Linked DNA regions of Homo sapiens. The protein of the gene in region 2 interacts with the protein of the main gene of each other region in a biochemical or structural test. Each region holds a gene or a part of one and is shown on either strand. Other genes may lie near its edges.

Region 1 (7,027 bases), on a different chromosome or scaffold from region 2:
AGAGGACCTCCTATCTGCATGCTGGATGTGATTTGGCTTAATGTAGTTTAAATAGCACCAACTGACATTAGTGGTTGTGTGGAGGCTGGGGAACTGCAGTACCTTCTTTGAGTCCGTACCTTCTTGTGACTTGGCTGGTCTGGAGGACGTTTCTGACAGAGGCAGAGAGCTCGGAGGTGCCAAGGAGGGGAGATCAGGTTGTTCCTTGGAATCTTCTTTCTTCACGCTCAGTGGGGTCAACCCTCTTCGGTGAGGTTTGCCAGATGGCTGGGGATATTCCTTCAAAGCTTCTGAGCCTGGGGCTGTCCCATGGGACAATGCAGGGTGAGGGAGGGGAGGAATTTCCTTTGTGTCAGATGGATCTGAGGACAGGCTGGACAGCATTTCTAGCTCCCTCCTGCCTTGGCCCTGGTTGCCTAAGTGGGATTTCTCTGGCCTCTTCCCATCCTCGGTGCTGGTAAGGACCACACTGCATGGTTTTACCAGCTCAAGTTTTTCATCTGCCTTGGAAGCCTCCTCCTCCTTCACTCTTTTTTGCTGCTGGGTTTCCATGGTAAGTTCAAGGCTGCCAGCTGGTGAAAGGACACGTTTGCTTCCCCCTGCTGTTGATGAACTCCCCTCCAGGCTCAAGATACTCTCTGATGACAGGGAAGTGCCTTTTCTTTCAGGTAATGTCACAGGCACTCTCAGGTATGGAGTTGGGAAAGCTCTGCTTTGCTCTTCACTTAACCCAGAAGGGCCGGGCCCAACCTCATGCACATCTGCACCACATACAGTCGTCCCCTTTGATGGGGGTTCCTCAAACTTGGGAAGTGCCACAGTTGCTGAGCTGCCTTGGGACTGGGTGACCAAGATCTGGGAAAGGGTGGTGTACATTGCGCTCCCATAGGACGGCATATTGGTCTGAACACGGACAGGCACAACCAGGGACACCATGGTGTCTGGACAGGCAGGCAGGGCCAGTGGAGGAGCTGATGTAGGTGCTGAGGAGCTGGCTGGGGGAGCCACAGGGGGTAGCCGGATGTCACTGCTGTACTCTGTGCTGGGGGAGAGGCCAGCACTTCCTGTTGCCAGTGGGGCCAGGCTGGTTTTGATCTGGGGCAGATGGCTTTCCACATCACCAGGGAGCTGAAGTGCAAACTGGGATTGCAGAGGCAGGAAAAACCCAGAAGACAGTGCTGAGGAGGTCGGGTATGGCATGGGGAGGAAGGAAGGGGGCTGCCTGAAGGGGATGTTGGCTGGGTGAGGCATGAGCTGGGGGAGATGGAGTTGGCCTGGGTGCAGAACAGTAGGCTGGAGAGGAAGCGGTGGGGCTTGAAATAAGGAGGGAGGAAGTGGGGGCATGGAGTATGGTGAGGACAGGAGGCTGGACATGGCCTGGGTGGAGAAGAATTCTGGAGACTGTCCTGGCTCATGCTGCACGAGATGCTGGAAGGAGAAAAGGGAGACTGGTGGGGGCAGGTATGGCTTCTCATGCAGGGGTGTCTGGGCAACGGGGTGGTGGAACACTTGCAGTGCTTCTGTGTAGGGCACAGTGGGCCCCAATGGGGGCCTGTCCTGCCCTGGGCCCTTGCCTCCCGGGGGTCCACCATGTGAGGTGGCCGCAGAGGAAATCTGGGACAATGAGCTTTTGGCAGAGGGTTTACTGGATGAGGGCTGTGGTTCTTCGCTCTCCTGTCTTCCCTTGGGGGCAACCTCCAACTCAGATTCTGGAGGCCTGCTCAGAGAGGCCTGTCTCACCAAGAAGCATTTTCTTCTCTCTGGCGGGGCCACCCGCGCTGGTGGAGCCACTGGGGCTGGAGCAGAAGGGCCTGTCAAGGACAAGCTGCCATAGTCAAAGGATTTGCTGCGTGTCTCGGTCATGTGGGCAGAATGGGAAACGTTGGGGCTCTGCTCTGAGGCTGACCTCCGCATCTCTCGGGCATGTGGGTGGTGGCTGGGGACAGTCAACATGTGGGTGCCCAGGGGTTTGGGGCGCATGTCAGATGAGGGACTGGGGGCCTCGGCTTTCCCATGGTCATCCCTCTCAAACGAGGCTGAGCGGCTGGACCCACTCAAAGAGACATTGCTTTCCTGGCTCGGGCTGCGAGACAGAGGCACAGAGGACTCGAAGCTGGACTCCCCTGATGATTGGGCCATCTCTGCCAGGCGCAACCTCTTCTTTTTGGGTGGCAGCTTCTCAGCTGGGAGCTGGGCAAGTGTCTGGCTGCGCTGGGGCCATTGGAACTCCTCAGTCTTCTCAGGTTCCTTAGGGGGCGGCTCTGGCTCTGTGTCCGGCCGGTCAGGCTCCTCAGTTACTAGGATCTCAGGAACCTGAATGTTGGGCTGGCGGACCAACTTAGGCTGCAGGGAGTGAGCAGAGCGTCCGTGTGGGGCAGGTGGGGGTGATGGGAACTGGGCCAGAGGTTTGTCTTCCCCTTCCAAGCCACTCGGCTGCTCGAGAGAATCAGATTTCTCAAAGGAGCTGGTGTGCTGGATGACAGAAATTTCTTTGGACGTTGTTCTCCTCTCCTTCCCTGATTCTGAACCGGACCCTGGCTTGGGAGTCCTTGGCTGGAAGCCCGTGGGTCCCTCCAAGGAGGGCACTGATTTACTTGGTTCTGCTGGTGACTTGGTGGACTCCAGGGGAAGGTTCCGAGCAGCATCAGATGGCCCGGGGCTGCCAAACTGACTTTTTGTGGACTCAAAGGCAGGTGGCTCTTCCTCGTCCCCAAGGCTCTTCTCTTTCCTCCTCTTCCTCAGTGGAGTGAGTTCCAGGGTGGTTCCCAGTTTGTAATGCATCATTTGGGACCACGGCTCATGCTCAATCTGACTCTTTTCAGCTTCTGGAGATGTGTGGGTGCCTGCAGAGATGGGCTTTGCGATCTGAAGCTCTGAGCAGTAGTATTTTTTGTGGGCTTCGTAGTTATCCCTTTTCTTGTACCGAGCACCACATATGTTACATTCGTAGATCACCCCTTTTGTTTTCAAACCCTTCTTGGTCTTTTTGGTAAGCTCGCTTTCCTTGGGTTCCACTTCGTCCGAGGGCTTGGAGGCTGTGTCTTTGCTGCTTGGGCCAGGCTCCTCAGAACTGTATTCCCCTCCCAAAGGTAATTCGATTGCCGGCTGGCGCTTCAGCATCCGGGGGTGGGAGGTAAACACGTGACTGCTGTGGCTCAGGGCTTCGGAGTCGGTGATATGGTCATCGAAGGAGTAGCTACCTCGGAAGGGGTGGTGGGGGGTGCTGATAGTGCAGGCGGCAGAAGGCATTGAGTGGCTTCTCAGGAGAGGCACAGGGGGGGCGGTACTGGGCGGGTGCTGGAGGCTCAGCAGTGATTGTTCAGGCTTGGTTTTCTCACTGTGGGATGACAGGGGCTCCCGGTAGAGGCTGGATTTTGGGGACTCCATGCTGCTGCGCCTGGACAGTGAGCTCCGCCTTGGCTTCACGCTGTCGATCTCGCTGGTGTCCACCACGGCCTCGTTGATGGTGATGAGCTTCGTGATGTGCTCGATCACCTGCGTCCGGGGTACAGACAAAGGCACCAGGCTGGGCTTGTCTTCGGTGGACAGGGGCAGGAGGGGCTGGGTGGAGGTGGCTGTCAGCATGGCGGTCCGCTGTCCTATTCGCCCACACTTGCCAAAGATGATCTCAGCGTAGGACTTGGCGTTGGTGTTTGGGGGGCTGACCTGCTGCTCTGCACTCTCGGAGCGAGAGAAATACCCAGACTCAGTACTCCCTTTGCTGCCTGGGCTCAGAAACGCCTGCTCATCGATCACCTTCTTCCTCTCGCTTAAGCGGAGGGCCAGCTTCTGCTTAATCGTGTGGGTGTCTTCAGGTTTATGGCTCAGGGGGTGCTCAGATGAGGGTTCCACAAATGGAGGGGGGTCTTCGAGTGACTGGGCTGTGCTGGACTGGGACAGGGAACAGCGTTCGTGGCTGGAACTGTGGCTCCCAGAGCTGTATAGCCCGCTGGAGAGAAGGGGCTGCTTGGGTCTTGGGGAGAGCTCTGCAGGGTGACCAGAGGTGGCACTAGTCTCCTCTTCAGAATCTGTGCTTTCTCCCTCAGTGGGCTCCTCAAACTCTTCCCCAGGGATCCGCTCCATCTCCAGCCCATGTGGGTACATCTCGCCACCCATGCCTGAGGCCAGGCCTGCTTTGATGCGGTGGGCATGGGACTTCCTGTGCTTGTAGAGATTACTCTTGGTCTTGAAGGAGAAGCCACAGGGGCCGCAGGGGTAGGGCCTCTCACCTGTGTGTGAGCGAATGTGCTTCTGGAGCACGCTGGGCTTGGCACAGGGCCGGCTGCAGTACTGGCAGATGTACTTGCCTGGCTTCTGGGGCTTCCTCTCCTTCTTGTGTGCCTCTTCTGTGGGCTTCAAGGAGACCTGGGAAGGACGAGGCACGAAGACTTTGGGGACTCCAGGAAGGTCCTCGGGGGGAATGATGGAAGCGTGGGAAGGAAGGAGCTGGCTCTGAGGATGGAGCCCAGGGGCCACGAAGGAGCCAGAGGGTCCAGGTCTCATGGGGTCAACCAGTTGCCATGTGGACCCCTCCAGGAGATGCTCAGGTTTGCCAGGCGACATGAATGCTGGTGTCAGAGGGTGCTGCGGAAGCTGTGAGATGTGGACGGATGCTTCGATGGGGGGCCTTTTGGGGGGCTTCTGCTGCTGGCCCGTTTTCTCCTGAGAGCCTTCCCTAAGAACTGATGAGGGGCCCGGGAAGGGCTGCGGGGCTAAGAGCTCTTGGGCGGGGCTCTCTTGGGTGGCAGCTGTGCCGCTGCCTGGGTATGGGACGCTGGAAGAAACACTGGTCTGAATGGCCTCTCCTTTGGTCAGCCGCTTCCGGGGACTTCCCTCAGCCTTCTTGGTGCCCTTGACACTTTGTTCAGGATCCATGACCTTCACAAAGACTTCAGATGCTATTCAGGGAGAGTCAGGGCGGGCTGCATTTATGAATAATCCCAGTGTCCCAAGGAGGTGTCCAGCTTTGGCCACATTGGTCAAGAGCTGTGGGAGCCAAACCCAAGACGGCTTTGGGAGTTTTTTGCAAGTGTCACTGGCTGTGAGTGGACTCGGAGCAGGTCATCAGGGCCCACGCTATTCTATTGGTGAGGCATGGCCCTCTACTTTGCAGACAGAAAACGCACCAGCACTTTCTGCCTGAATGTCTGTCGGGAAAACGTCATGAAGGATGTCAGTATTGCCATTGTATTGTTTCAGCTGGCAGTGGCAGGTGGCCCCCACGAGTCCCCCGTGTGCTATGCAAACGGTTGAAGGTTGGAGACATCTGTGTCCATGGCCCAGTCATCCCTGGTCCTGGCACAAGAGATGCCACGCTGGATGCTGGGGGTGGCTCTTCTCCCCTTTAGTTCTGGGTTGGAGATCAACGGCCTTGGAGGAGAAATCACGCTCTTCTTCTGTGTGATAGATGTACACACACACAGAAATACACACACACAAAAGAGAAGACAGAGTTACTGGGACTCATGCACAGCCTGGGCAGCCCAGACTCGGTGCCACACCTGGCTGAGACCCCTCAAAAGTTAACCAGGGAAACTCAAGCAGAACCACAGGCTCCGGCTCCACATGTCCAAGCCCTGCAATTCTTTCCTCCCCCGCTCCCATGTCAGTGTTGGGTGACCTGAATGCCAGTGTGTTTCTGAGGACTGTGGCCATGTGGGATGCTGAGAACAGAAGGCAAAGTGGGCTCTGGGAACTGCAGGGTGGTTAGGGACAGAGGCCTGGGCTCTCATCTCTGTTTTGTGATCCACTCTGAGTGGGTCTAAGCTCTCTAAGCCTCAGTTGCCTAATCGGTAAAACAGATAACAAATCCTGCCTCGACTGTGCCTCGGAGCTGCAGTGGGCCCAATGACATTGGAGATGCAGATGCTGCTGGGTGAACTCTGGATGGGGCCATGGCTGGTGCAGGAGGGAAGTGCCTGTGGTTTATTCAGGGGTGAGTTTTCCAAGGGGTAGATTATTCTCAGGTTAGTATTTCTCTCTGGCCCTGGGTTCTGAAAGTGTCCACAAGGGACATCATTCACTGCTTTTTACCCCATTGCTAACCCGCACCCCAGCCCATGTTTGAAGACAAAACTGCAAACTACTGCCACAGCCTGTGAGAACTTACAATCTGACACAGCTGTGACCATTTGCTTGATCCAAGCAATTGCCAGGAGGATCATTCTGGAAGGTTCCTCTGGCTTTGCAGCCTTTCCTTGTCCAGTCAGTGCCCTGGGGATGCCATGGAAATATGGGGATCATTGCCCTCAAGTGGAGGAGCAAAGTTGGTCTGCATATAGCCCCAAGTGTGTGCCTCCTCCTAGGGCCAGCTGCAAGCAGGGCAGTCTCAGCTTCCTGGGCTCAGGTGCATCCTCAGGGCCCTCCTCCCCAGGAACAGGGTCGGAATCCCAAGGCTGGAGTCACCATGGACTCCATCTCACCCAACCACCTGACTTTGGACATCATGAAGATGGCTTACTGAAGGTCCCGTGTTGCTAACAGGCAGTGTTGCCACCTGGACCCAGGCCTCCCATGGCCAGAGTTTGTTCCCCAGCCCCTTCTCAGGTGTCCATCCCCTGGCATCCCTTGGCGAGGCCCTGGGTGAGTGATGAGCATCTCTGTGCTTGCTTTTTCTCCTGTGAGCATGCCCTACCCCCGGCATCCTGCCCTCAGGCTCCCCTCATGCTCACACTCTTCGTTTCACTAGGTGTGTGATGATACAGACTTGAAAATGCCACTTACTACATTTTTGCAGGTGCTCAGAAGACGAACAAGTCTTTAAGACTCAAATAATTGTCTCTTAAAGGGCAGGGCCCTCGGACACTGTGATATGCTTTGGAGGAGCAGGTGATTTGATCTTTTAGCTAAAAAGCATATCCTCTAAGTTCACTCCTTTTGTGTGCCTTTTCTACTTGGTGCTACAAAGAATTCAAAGTAACTATAACAAAACCATATTTATAGAAGAATGACAAACTATAAATATGAGAAAATCATAAATAAGAATAACAAATCAGAACAAAGAAAATGGAAATAAGGCAAAAAGTCA
Region 2 (7,027 bases):
CATGCCAGAAGCGGTTCTTATAGTGCACCTCCTGGAAACCAAGCAGACAGGGTGGGCCACCATGAGGGGTGCTGGGGGTGGTGGCAGGAGCCCTCCCATAAGGCTGATTTCCCTGGGACTGACCACTGAGATGACACAGTCCCTTACACCTGGGACTGCCCCACAGTGACTATTCTTATAGGAGGGACGCTGAGGTGAGGATAAAAATCTCACAATTCTTGAAATATTTAGAATGCAATCAAAAGAGCTGGCAAGGGCGCTGGCGCCCATCCAGTCAAGCCCCACATTAAACAGCTCGGGCCACTGTGGCCTGGGGAGTGGAGGAGGCTTCCTTGAGGCCTCAAGGTGGCTGCAGTGATGCTGGGAAATCCTAACAGCCAGCTGCTGCTGCCATGGTTGTGGGCAAAGGACACTCCAAAACCCAGCCCTTCCCATTGGCACATGGGGATGCCCGTTACCTTGGAGTCCGCACCGATGGGCTTGCGGCATTCCACACAGGTGTTGGCACAGAACTTGTCAAAGCATTTCAGGCAGCAGTGGTGGCCATCCTTTTGCACATACTTCTTCCCCTGCAAGGGATCCCTGCAGTAGTGGCAGTCAAACTTCTCCGCCATGGTGCCCACCTTGTAGCTGGAGGGACCTGCGGGGGCAAGCAGACAGGACAAATGACCACAGGAAATGCCCCAGCACCCTGAGCAGTGGCTCCCAGAGGCACCTGCACAATGCTGCCTTGGAGTCCATGGGGTCTGAGGACCAAGACCCAGCTTCCCCTTCAGCCGAGCTGACTACCAGGCACCAAGACAACAGATACTTCACTATGATTCCAGGAACAAAAGCACCCCGCGGGGCCAGATGGCCGATGGCTAGTGATTCCCTGGGGAGATGGTAGAAGCCCCTGCTCAGATATATCAACTGTGCTGATTCACAAAAGATGCGGAGCGGGGCAAGTGGATCAGAGCCTGTGTTGGCCAAGTCACCAGATAGGGGACAGGATGCTGGGAGGTATGGCTGAGCAGTGCTATTGTGCCATTGAGCAGTGACCCGATGGAGTGGAGGGGTGTGATGGGGCAGGCAGGCAAGAAGCAGTTGTTTTATACAAAGGAAGAGTGTGGGGCAGAGGCTCAAAGGGGTGCAGGAAAGCAGGGGCCCCGCCTGCAGGCAGCAGCTTCTCTAAGCCCACCACGTTGTCATCAAGAAGCCTCTCTGCCCGCTTTCAGCTCTTCCTCCGTCTCTTTTTAGGGAGGGTAGTATCCTCTGGAGGCCTCCCGTTCCTCCTATCTATAAAATTCTATTCATCAGAATAGAAACTGACAGCTCATTCTGTACCACACCAGGTACCTAAGCAATCCTTGTTAATTTGTTTAAAATGTTTAAATTTACTTGCAATTTAGCAGAAAAGTGTTAAATCCCTGAATAGATCCTAAAGAGTTTTGTCCAAGAGAGTTTACTGCCTTTTGAGGCCAGAGCAATATAGCAAGAGAGGACTTATATAAATGGCTTTGTCAATTGGCACAGGCAAGTTTGGCAACCTTGAATTATCTGTCATAGTCACGGGTGGCTTTGTGACCAAAATCAAACCCTCCCTTGAGTCAAGCAAGTGAGAATCAATATGCTCATAGAAGTGTAACCAGTATTACCATTTGGGATATTTGCTGTCTTAAAAATTATAATCTTAAAATAGAGTCTGGAAAAAATTATTCCAAGAATCCCTTCCACTCCCTCCGTATGAACAACCCCTCTTCCCTCCCTGGTCCCCTCCCCGGCTGTGGCCCTAGACAACACGCCTGCAATCCCAAGCATTACTAAGGCACTCTGCAGCTCCCTTTGCCAAGGCATTTCCTATAGAATCCTGCCACCCAAAAGGTACCAAATATGAGTTTCTATTAGCTTTCAACTTCTTTAAACATATGCTAATTTGTTCCTCTCCCCCGAAAAAGAAATTTGCACGGGTAAATAGATAGCAATTATTTCATTTGTGCAGGAAATACAAGAATTGAGACTACTTTCTAAAACTATCCACAAACATGGTTATTGTGCTAGCAAACTTCCAGCGTAATTTAGAGAGAAAGAATGAGAGAAAATAAATGAGCAGTTGCCTGGTACTCACCGCAGCTCTTCCACTAACTGAAAGCCCCAAAGTCTCACTTTGGGTTCCATTCCCAGGTTTTTTTTATACAAACACATGTCCAAGTTATTTGGATCTTGTTGCCATGAGCAACCAAACAGCAGAGAGTGAGCTAAGGAAACCACACCCTGTGTTTGAGAAGCCGCCTGGGCAAAGGCTGTTGAACTCTCACTCAGAACCAAGCCTCCAAACAAAGGAAATCAGGCCACTGGATGAGCCACAGGGCCTTCTGCCTCCTGCTGACACACAGACCCCCCTCATCTCTAAGGAGCTGGCAGATGAAGCAGATGAGTGACATTCTTGTGCAAGGACAGTTGCTTAGGACAGTTGTGTCACAATTAAGAGACTTAGCAAGACCAGAGAATGGTTCTAACTTGAACTTTTCTCTAAAAAGCAAACTGGGATGTTTCTTTATATAATGGGTTAGAAACAAAAACTAGAGACGCAATGGACACAGGGCCTATCTCCTTGAACTATGTACTGTTTAGGTAAGGAAGCTTTTAAACTGCTTTTAGCCTGTGTGTCTACAGAGAAAAGTACCTGTCCCAGTGACAGCATATGGAAAATCACTCTCTTTAATCCATTCTTGTTGGTCTTTCCAGTGTCACACAGAAGCCTCGTCTTAGCTTTGCCATACTGATAATATTGTGCCCTCAACAAAGACTTGCTTTCTTGTTAAGGGCTGAGTTGAGAAACCAAATAAATCTCCAGTAACGGCAAGTGGCAAGAAATAAATTATCAGTTGCTCCTAAATGCCATTTGGCAGGAAAACAGAATTTGTAAGATTAGACAGCACTGGCTTCCTGCATGGCTAGTAACCATTGCTGGTTTAGCCTTTCAGAGACTATCTTCTGGACCATATTTGAAAATCCCTCATTCTCTCTTACCAAGGTCTCTATTTAGTATACAACTTTGAACCTACTCGTTTTAGTATCACTTGCTTTTGATACCTTTATAAGCAGAAATTGATTCCAAATATTTCTAAGTTAAAGTACTATATAAAGTTCCACCTAAGGTGAGTCAAACCTCTTAGTATTTGAGTCCTAGCTTTATGGTAAGAAATACAGGTTAACTAGTGTCATACCAAAGAAAAAACACTAGAAAACACAATGAATGCCATTTAGAAGTAGAGGTTTTGAAGAGAAGGAAAACTGCATTATGGTTCAAAGTACCTGAGAGATCTTAACTGCCATGTTTTTCACACTTTAAAACCACACACTTTCAGTACTTTGATATTACCAGTGCAAAGTTCTTCATTGTTTAGTCTCATAGTTCTAGAACATGACTTGCTCAGAGTTCTAAGCATCCAGATGATAAAATAATCCACAGCTCACCAGTGAAGATAGAAGTAACAAAGGGTGTTGAAAATGTCAGACAATGAAGTCACTGGCCACTGTATCATTCCTATAGTACATGGTCTTAAACCAAGCAAAAGGAAAATTAAATGAATCAACCCCAAGTTAATAGTACCCATAAGAAGAGTTTCATCTCTTGGTATTTTTGAATCCTAGCTTTAGGCAAGATTTTTTCACTCTGAGTTTGAAAACTCTAGGGTCACCTTACACCTTAGATTCCCCACCACTCTATACTTAAACCTGCAGTCTGTATCCAGATGGAGAATCATTTCAAAGGGCATATTCTTTTAGAATACATTTCTACAATTCACTTGAGTCCTTTTAATGTGTGTGGAAACAATTAGTCTAGATAAAATAGGCACTTCTAGGAATGTTGGATTTGTTGCATAATAAGTAAACAGGCTAGAAATACTTAAAGTATGTTAACAATGTCTATGTCAAATTCATGAACTTTCGTATTTGTTTTGCAATAAATCAAATTAAGTGGAACTCTGGGCAACCTGAATTAGCTTACGTCACGTACTTCTAAATTTATGATTATTTGTTACAAAACAATTTCAAACCCTCATGCACGCAGTGTGCTCAGGATGAAGTTGGAGGAGATACTGATCACGTCACAATTTTGTATAAAATATGAATGATGTGCTGATGTGCACAAGACCAAAACAACTCTAAAAAGCCAGCTTATAAATGACAATGCTGAGACACACATGCAAAGATCCTGAGTGTGGGCTCCCTGAGTCTGAGCTACTATCAAGCTTTGACTTCATGAGGAGAGAAAAGCTTGCTCTTTCTTTCTTTCTTTTTTATTTTAGACGGAGTCTCGCTCTGTCACCAGGCTGGAGTGCAGTGGCGCAATCTTGGATCACTGTAACCTCTGCCTCCTGGGTTCAAGTGATTCTCCTGCCTCAGCCTCCCGAGTAGCTGGAACTACAGGCATGTGACACCACACCCAGCTAATTTTTGTATTTTTAGTAGAGACAGGGTTTCACCATGTTGGCCAGGATGGTCTCGATCTCCTGACCTCATGATCCACCTGCCTTGGCCTCCCAAAGTGCATTTTACAGGCGTGAGCCACCGCACCTGAGATTACAGGGGTTACAGGCATGAGCCACCGCGTCCATCCCAGCTTGCACTTTCTTTTGTTTGAAATGAGAGAATAGGGAAAAATGAAGATAGCATTTTACCTCTTTGTTGTTGTTGAGACAGGGTCTCGCTCTGTCACCCAGGCTGAAGTGCAGTGGTGCTATCCTGGCTCACTGCAACCTCCACCTCCTGGGTTCAAGCAATTCTCCTACCTTAGCCTCCTGAGTAGCTAGGACTATAGGTGAATGCCACCACGCCTGGCTAATTTTTGTATTTTTAGTAGAGACGGGGTTTCGCCATGTCGGGCAGGCTGGTCTTGAACTCCTGACCTCAAGTGATCTGCCCACCTCGGCCTCCCAACTTGATGGGATTGCAGGCATGAGCCACCATGCCCAGCCAGCATTTTACCTCTTCTTTTGGGCTCTCTTCAACCTTACAGAATTACATGTACTTAGGCATTTATTTCTTAGGGAATAATTTTTTATCCCCTTAGCTATTTCTAAGTACATGAAATGTGAAGGCCTTTAATCTTCCAGAACTTCTAGATATGTCTGCCTTGACCTATTGCTGTTATCCGGGAATGGGAGTGTCAGCCATCATTGAAGGAAACAATTGCTACACATCATCACCATGCTTCTTCCCTTACCACTTGTCTTTGTGGAGGGCATGTTTGCCCTCGGGCAGCTCTTTGACTAATTTTAATGTCTCGGTGTAGCCCTCATCTGTACATAGTAGGGATGCCAGAGTAGGTATTAGACATGAGCAGGGCAAGAGAGGGCCCCCCACCCAACCAGGAATGTCAGGCGGCCATCAGGTGAAGGTCAGATGGTTGTTAAACTATCTCTCGCTAAAATAATAATTGGTTGCAGCTGGCACCAAGGAAACACGGTCCCTAATAGACAGAAACACCTGAAACTGATGCTCAGCCACGTCCCCATGAGATCTCAGGAGGTGGGTAATTGGGCTCAAGCATGTGCACTAAGAGGCAAAATTGCGGTGTTTAACTGGTATAAGACCTACCTCTGGGAATGCTCTACTGCTAAGGGAAAAATCGCTTAAAGTAAGCATGCACACAACTTCAGTAAACACCACGCATGCGGCACTTCCCAAGTGCTGGCAGGCCACTGGGCATGCGGACAGCCCACCCCAAGGGAAGAATCAGGAGAGAAGTAATATAACACCCGAATCATGCCAACATATAAAAGCCCAGGTCAAAGGTCAAACCATGCACTTTTTGAATCTCTCAAGTAGCCTGCTTGGTCATCTTCTAAATGTACTTTACTTTCATTCCTGCTCTGAAACTTTATTTTATTTTTTGAGACGGAGTCTCACTTTGTCACCCAGGCTGCAGTGCAATGGTGCAATCTCTGTTCACTGTAACTTCCGCCTCCCAGGTTCAAGCAATTCTCCTGCCTCAGCCTCCCAAGTAGCTGGGATTACATGCGTGCACCACCAAGCCTGGCTAATTTTTGTATTTTTAGTAGAGACAGAGTTTCAGCATGTTGACCAGGCTGGTCTCCAACTCCTGACCTCAAGTAATCCACCCGCCTCAGCCTCCCAAAGTGCTGGCATTACAGGCATGAGCCACCGTGCCCGGCCTCCTGCTCTAAAAGTTTTTAATAAACTTTCACTCCTGCTCTAAAAGTTGCCTTGGCTTCTCCCTCTGCCTTGTTCTTCCTTGAGGAGGCAAGAAATGAGGTTGCTACAGACCCACAGATTCCCCGCTGCTAACATACTTTGGTGCCGAGTGACTTGGATACATTCCCTAGTGCTAACAAGTGGGGTTTCTCTATGACAGAAAGTTCTGCTCATACACTAGGGGGCCCCAGTACCTAATCCAGGGCTTTGTATACAGGAATCACTCAGTATATGCCTGTTGATTGACAGATGGAGATATGTTACCACAACTAAGTTTCTAAAACTTTGGTATGTGGATAGTCACTGAAAGTGGCTTCTGATCCAATTATCTGAGCCTCTATTTTGTCCATACCAACCCTATTTCAGGACCACACTGATTTCCTTTCTGTAAGGACTTCTTTCTTGGGCCTATTCTCCTCTGCTTTCATGGACTTATGAACCTAATGCAATATGACATACTATTTCCTGATTTTAAAAATCATCTTATATGACGTGTAAGGTGCTGAAGTCTAACCTACACCTTAGGTCCACATAAATGTCCCCTGATTTTCTAAGACAGAAAGCATCATTATTAAATAATTTAATTAAAAATTAACTAAATTAAAGTTTTACAAGCTTAGAATACAGTTAGAAATGTGGCTGGGTGATAAAATTTTAGACATTTATTCCAAAAGGGTAGCCTGACTTTCTATGCCTGCTTCAAAAGACACATCATTTTCACTTAATAAACAAGCTTCCTTTTTCAGAAAATTCTTGAACTACATCCAACATGCTGAGAGGTGCCTAAATAAACCTCAGTATCTTAATTAAAAGTTTTGGCTTT

Evidence for each region. Proteins that work in one complex are often made in the same cells at the same time.
Region 1: the proteins of FHL1 (region 2) and HIVEP3 form a complex in vitro, tested with the Homo sapiens proteins (one study listed by BioGRID).

Annotation. Positions count from the first base shown.
Region 1 is NC_000001.11:41,579,923-41,586,949, forward strand, and holds part of HIVEP3 (transcription factor HIVEP3), read right to left. Parts: intron 5,397-7,027; coding exon of another isoform or gene 5,384-5,396; 5' UTR 4,876-5,383; coding exon 1-4,875. Other genes in the region: uncharacterized LOC128125817, read right to left, coding at 5,384-5,396.
Region 2 is NC_000023.11:136,200,020-136,207,046, reverse strand, and holds part of FHL1 (four and a half LIM domains protein 1), read right to left. Parts: intron 2,146-7,027; exon of another isoform or gene 2,108-2,145; intron 641-2,107; coding exon 459-640; intron 32-458; coding exon 1-31.